2 separate regions of the Homo sapiens genome follow, and region 2 is linked to region 1. Evidence: fine-mapped expression QTL. Tissue or cell type: sun-exposed skin. Region 1 holds a variant in brackets; the other region holds the start of a gene. All regions are shown on one strand. Distances are from middle to middle.

The links. PIP is the estimated chance that this variant, and not a neighbour inherited with it, causes the effect.
Region 2: it holds the start of CYSLTR2, and the variant in region 1 is fine-mapped to the expression of CYSLTR2 in sun-exposed skin (GTEx, PIP 0.98).

The regions. Positions count from the first base shown.
Region 1 is chr13:48,579,708-48,582,560 of GRCh38, forward strand. All of the region lies in intron 1 of LINC01077 (long intergenic non-protein coding RNA 1077), which reads right to left. It overlaps LINC00462 (long intergenic non-protein coding RNA 462), which reads right to left and starts at 1,194. Exons shown (of 3, transcript NR_051983.1): 1 at 1,134-1,194. It overlaps LOC105370202 (a long non-coding RNA gene), which reads left to right and starts at 1,484. Exons shown (of 3, transcript XR_941958.4): 1 at 1,484-1,559; 2 at 2,039-2,285. The variant T/C (reference allele first, on the strand shown) is at 1,380.
Region 2 is chr13:48,652,442-48,655,117 of GRCh38, forward strand. CYSLTR2 (cysteinyl leukotriene receptor 2) reads left to right here and starts at 1,488. Exons shown (of 5, transcript NM_001308476.3): 1 at 1,488-1,576.

The DNA.
Region 1 (2,853 bases):
TTCTAAGGACTATTTGAACTTACAGCAATCTGATCAAGGCAGGTTTTAGAGTTTCAGGAATGCTGGTGAGCCATGTCTTGCATGTTTAACCCAAAGCTTCCCTGGAGTTGGAGACTGCACTACTTTTCATCCATCATACACTTTTTGGGCACTCGCTTGTTGGTGCTGGGCACTGTGTTAGACTCCAGAAAGACAGATAATTGTTTAGTAAAGGAAAAAAAAATGCTGTTTCTGCCCTGGAAAAATGTGCCTGACACAGAGGCCTTTTGTATTTCTGTTCTGGTCAAATAGCAACTCTCTCCTCGAGGCCATAAATGCTGAAGCTTAGACCTAGTATTTGATAGCACAACAGGGTAACTATAGTCAATAATAATTTAATTGTACATTTAAAAATAACTAAAAGAGTATAGTTGGATGGTTTGTAACACAAAGGATAAATGCTTGAGGGGATGGATACCCTACTTTCCATGATGTGATTATTATGCATTGCATGCCTGTACCCAAATATCTCATGTATCCCACAAATATATAGACCTACTATGTGCCCACAAAAATTAAAAATTAAGAATTAAAAAAAAAATGCCACAAGACAGGAGAGGTAAGTTAGCCTAGAAAGAGCTTGTTAAAAAAAAAAAAAAAATCCTTTCTTTACAGTCGAATAATATTTTAGCAATGCTGCCCTCTGCAGAGCAAAACTAGGATCGCAACTCTAGGTGGTTAAACGAACTTCCCAACACTGGTTAATTTGAAGAGAACTGGAAGATTCAATGGTCTTCCAGAGTTTTCTCACATACCCCCCTAAAATAATTGTGAATAATCATGTGCCTCCTTGCGTGTTTTTAAGTTGACATCTAAATTTGCCTTATCACCTTAATAGTTGCAAAGGATGTTCTTTCCCACACATTTTCTGAGCTTTAAATAGTTGCAGATTGAGCGTATCCAGTTTAGTTTATGAAAAACACCATCTGTATCACCTGGTGGGCAAAGCCAGCCCTCATTGTCAGACCAATCAGCTAACTTTGAATTGCTTTCTGACAGAAAAATAGTTTACTCGACTGTATTAATCACGCTGCTGATAAAGACTTATCCGAGACTGGGTAATTCTTAAAAAAAAGGAGGTTTAATGGACTCACAGTTCCATGTGGCTGGAGACGCCTCATAATCATGGTGGAAGATGAAGGAAGAGCAATGGGACGTCTTACATGGCAGCAGGCAAGAGAGAAAGAGAGCCAAACGAAAGGGGAAACCCCTATAAAAGCATCAAATGTTTGATGAAAAGACTTTGAAATTCATTGTTGAAAAGACTTATTCTGTTCAACATTGTTGAAAAGTTGTTTGAAAAGACTTATTCATTACCATGAGAACAGTATGTGGGAAAC[T/C]GCCCCCATGACTCAATGATTTCCCACTGGCACCCTCCCACAACACGTGGGAATTATGGAAGCTGCAATTCAAGATGAGATTTGGGTGGAGACACAGCCAAACCATATCATTGACTGACTTAAATTCAACAGAACTGTGCTTTGGAGGACATCGTTGCGCTGCTGACTTCTAACACTGAGGTAGGTGACTAGATAGAGCTGGCGCAGGTGACCCAGGCATTGCTCCTTTAGGGGTGCCTTCTGAGAAAGCAAAAGGAGTTTTACTTTCATGGGACTCTCCTGTCTTAGCTCTAAATTTTCTTATTGTCCCATTGTTTGGTGCAAGTTCTTTTTTTTTTTTTGAGATGGAGTTTCGCTTTTGTTGCCCAGGCTGGAGTGCAATGACATGATGTTGGCTCACCGCAACCTCCGCCTCCCAGGTTCAAGTGATTCTCCTGCCTCAGCCTCCCGAGTAGCTGGGATTACGGGTATGTGCCACCATGCCTGGCTAATTTTGTGTTTTTAGTAGAGACTGGGTTTCTCCGTGTTGGTCAGGCTGGTCTCGAACTCCCGACCTCAGGTGATCTGCCCACCTTGGCCTCCCAAAGTGCTGGGATTACCAGGACGGTGTATTATAAGTTTCAGGATGGTAAAAGGTGTATGTCTTCTCTTGTAAACAGAGAGAAGGGAGATTGTGAAAGGTACAAGAGGCAGGGGAGCAGCCCACTGAGCTACCCCAGGAATTTCCCTGACAATCAGTTTTAAGGAGGACATGCAGAAGTTGAAGATGTGGAACACACATCCCATCTAAGGGGTGACATCCTTCAGTTTGTGGACAGCTGGTCTAATTCACTGGAGGAGGAACACAGCTCCCCTGGGGCCATGCTCTGGCCACAGAACAGTGTGCAAGAGGTCATTTATGTTCAGGTAGCTTTTCTTATCTCTCCACTCTTGCTCTGGTCTTTAACAGCTTTCCTTCAGGGGCACGTAGAGGGCATGGCTGTGATATGCCTGTGTCATGCTTTTTAAAGAGTAGTCCTCCTGGAAAATAACTCATCCTTCTCTAGGTCTGGAAGATGACTTTGGCCTCCAGGAGCTGTCTAGCAAAAGCTGAATGCCAGTTTACAGCAGCTGTCTGTTCATACAGACAGGTCAAGAGGTTTCCTGCCTGGTGGGTGGCTGGACAAAGTGCCCAGGGTGGACGAAGATAGTTACACCATAGGGCCTGAGTGAGCGGGAGACACTAAGATGATTCACTGTCTGCTGAGGAGCACCTTGAAAGTCAGACCAGGATATTTCAGGTCCTACACCACCTGACCACTGCCCGTTGATAGAACCTGCTTCCCCCTTTGAACCATATCTGACTTGCCTTGACTTTCACCTTTGTAAAAATGGGAATCTTTTTAAAGCTATAATACTATTTCCTGATTACTGCTTTCTCTTCACTCCTCTAACATTCTGTACCTTTTTTTTTTTTTTTTTTTTGAAACCGAGT
Region 2 (2,676 bases), 73 kb after region 1:
ATTTTGTTCTTTTTAAATCAGTAAATAGTATTCAATTGTGAATATATACCACATTTTTCATCCATCTTTCTGTTGATGAACATTTCGGGTGATCCATATTTTGGCTATTGTGAATAGTGCTACAGTAAACATGAGAGTGCAGAGATCTCAACAAGATTCAGTAACCTTACTACTGAGTATATATCCAAAGTATTTTATTCATTTTGATGCTATTATAAATGGAATAGTTTCCTTAGTTTCCATTTTTGGATTGTTTATTGTTAGTGTATATAAATGCAACTGATTTTTGTGTATTGATTTCCTGTCCTGCAACTTTGCTCAATTTGCTTGCTTATTAGTTCTATTGGGGTTTTGTGTGTGTGTGTGTGCATGGTATCTTCAGGTTTTTCTACATATAAGATTTTATCATTTGCAAACAGACAAAATTTTACTTATTTATTTCCAATTTGGATCCCTTTTACTTATTTTTCTTGCTTAATGTTACTGCAGCTTTCTATGCAGGAAACGAGGATTTGAACAGTGATGGAGAGATGAGTAATGGTTCGATTTGGAACATATTTTATGGGCAGAACAAATGGAACTTGTTGGCTCAGAAGTGGGTGGTGGAAGAAAGAGGGAAGTTAAAAGTGACTTCTAGGTTTATGGATGGATGAACTGGCTAAATTATTGTGGTGCCATTTGCTTAGACAGGGTAGATGGGGGGATGCAGGACTAAGAGAGGAAGAGAAAAGCTCCACCTGGGCCACATTAAATTTGGCCATGATTGTGGATCAGATAGGTAAAAGCAAGAGAAGGAGGGAAGAAGTCAGAACACAGACCTCTGGGGAAAGCTCACACGTAGAAAAGGGGTGGAAGAAGAGGCATCAGAAAGAGAGGCAAAGAAGAGCAATCTGAGGGGTAGAAAAAGAACCAGGAAAGTCAGAGAAAAAAGGGAAAAGTTTCAGGAAAGTGGCAATGGTCAACTATGCAAACAAGAGGGGAAGGAAGGTGAGGACTGAGAAAGGATTTTTTATGTAAGCAACAAGGAGGTTTTTGGTGACCTCTGACAGAACATTTTCAGCAGACTGGATAAGGTCTCTGCCTGAGTGCAAGTGAGCTGAAAATGCAAGTGAGTGAGGGAAGTGCTTTAAAAAAGTCTAAAGTGCTATGTGTGTAAGGCAATGTTGCTATTTCTGTTGCCATGGAAACAGAAACCATTTAGGAGAACTAAAAGCCACTTAAAATTCCTGACTCTAACCCATCATATCCGCTTGATCTCTTGAGAAAGATAATGACAAAAAACCAGTCATTAGAGGGGCAGGGCAATTTTAGGTTTCTTCTTTTTAGACATAGCCCCTAACTGGAAATTTTCACCCTTCTTGAGAAGGGAGCTTGCACTAACATCTACAATGGCTTCTAAAAAGCACAGATGACCTGCTACACTTCCTGACTTGCTTGCTATTGGTTGGCACTGTTCATAAATATAATTTGCTCTTTCACTTTTCTTTGAAATGAGCAACCTGAATTACTCGGAGGAGAAAGGCAGGAGAGATAGAGGCAGCAGAAGCCAGGGCAGCTGAAAGACAGAGACCTTCAGGTGGGCATTTTAATCTTTGTTTTGTTAATTCAGTGTTGAGCATCATGACTTGATGATCACATAATAGTCAGAGGAGTAATTTTTTAAAAGTAAATTTGTTTTGTTCTACTATAAATGTTATTTTCCTATCATGTACATGGTAGTTTAAAAAATACTGTGGAAGTATAAAAATGTTGAAAGAAGCCAAATTCTCCACCAAAATAGCCTCTATTGATATTTTGGGGATCGTCCCTTTGTGTGTGTGTGTGTGTGTGTGTGTGTGTGTGTGTGTGTGTGTGTGTGTGTGTGAGTGTGTGTGTGTGTGTGTGTATGCACATATAACTTTAGTTTTCATAGTTGCGTCCCTACACTATGGACAAGTTTGTATTCATTTCCTCCATATCAGTCTATGGTTTTTCCATGTTGCTGTGAATTCTTTGTAATCATAAATTAAAGCTGCTGCATATTATTGCATTGAGGAACTTTACTATACTTCCTCCATTTTTGGCTGTTATCCTCTTTTTCATAGTTTGGGTCCTTCTATTATATAAGATATATTTTTTCCATTCAGTGTCTTGTTTTAGGGGTAGAAGAAGTTAAATCTGAGCACATATATTTCAATGGTTTTGCTCAGAGGCACAATGAGAATGAAAGAGTATGTGAGATCATGAGCATATAATCTGTTCCTTACCCCACTGGGACCCTAATCAGTGTTTCTCAACCCTGGCTGCACATCTGGCCAGAATCACCCGACTCTGAGGAGATTAGAAAATTACCCCTAGAATAACTGAAGCTTAACTTTTGGAGATCAGTGAGTCATCTGCAGTATTTTATCTTGTTTTCCAGAAACTTCTCAGGTGGTTCTAATGGGTGGTCAGCATAAAAACAGATGACCTAGGTCATTCAAAATATTTTTCTGTCTCTGAAATATACCTGAGAGTAATATGTATTAGGAGAAAGGGAGGTATAATTTAAGGCAAGCCAACCAAATCTCCCTTTCAACACTACATAAATAATGCAAATTATAAAATAATTTGTGGGAAACATAAGACTTCTAGAAATTTCTATCATCTACTCAGCCACATAAACTCTTGAGATAAGAATCTACTTGTGTTTCGATT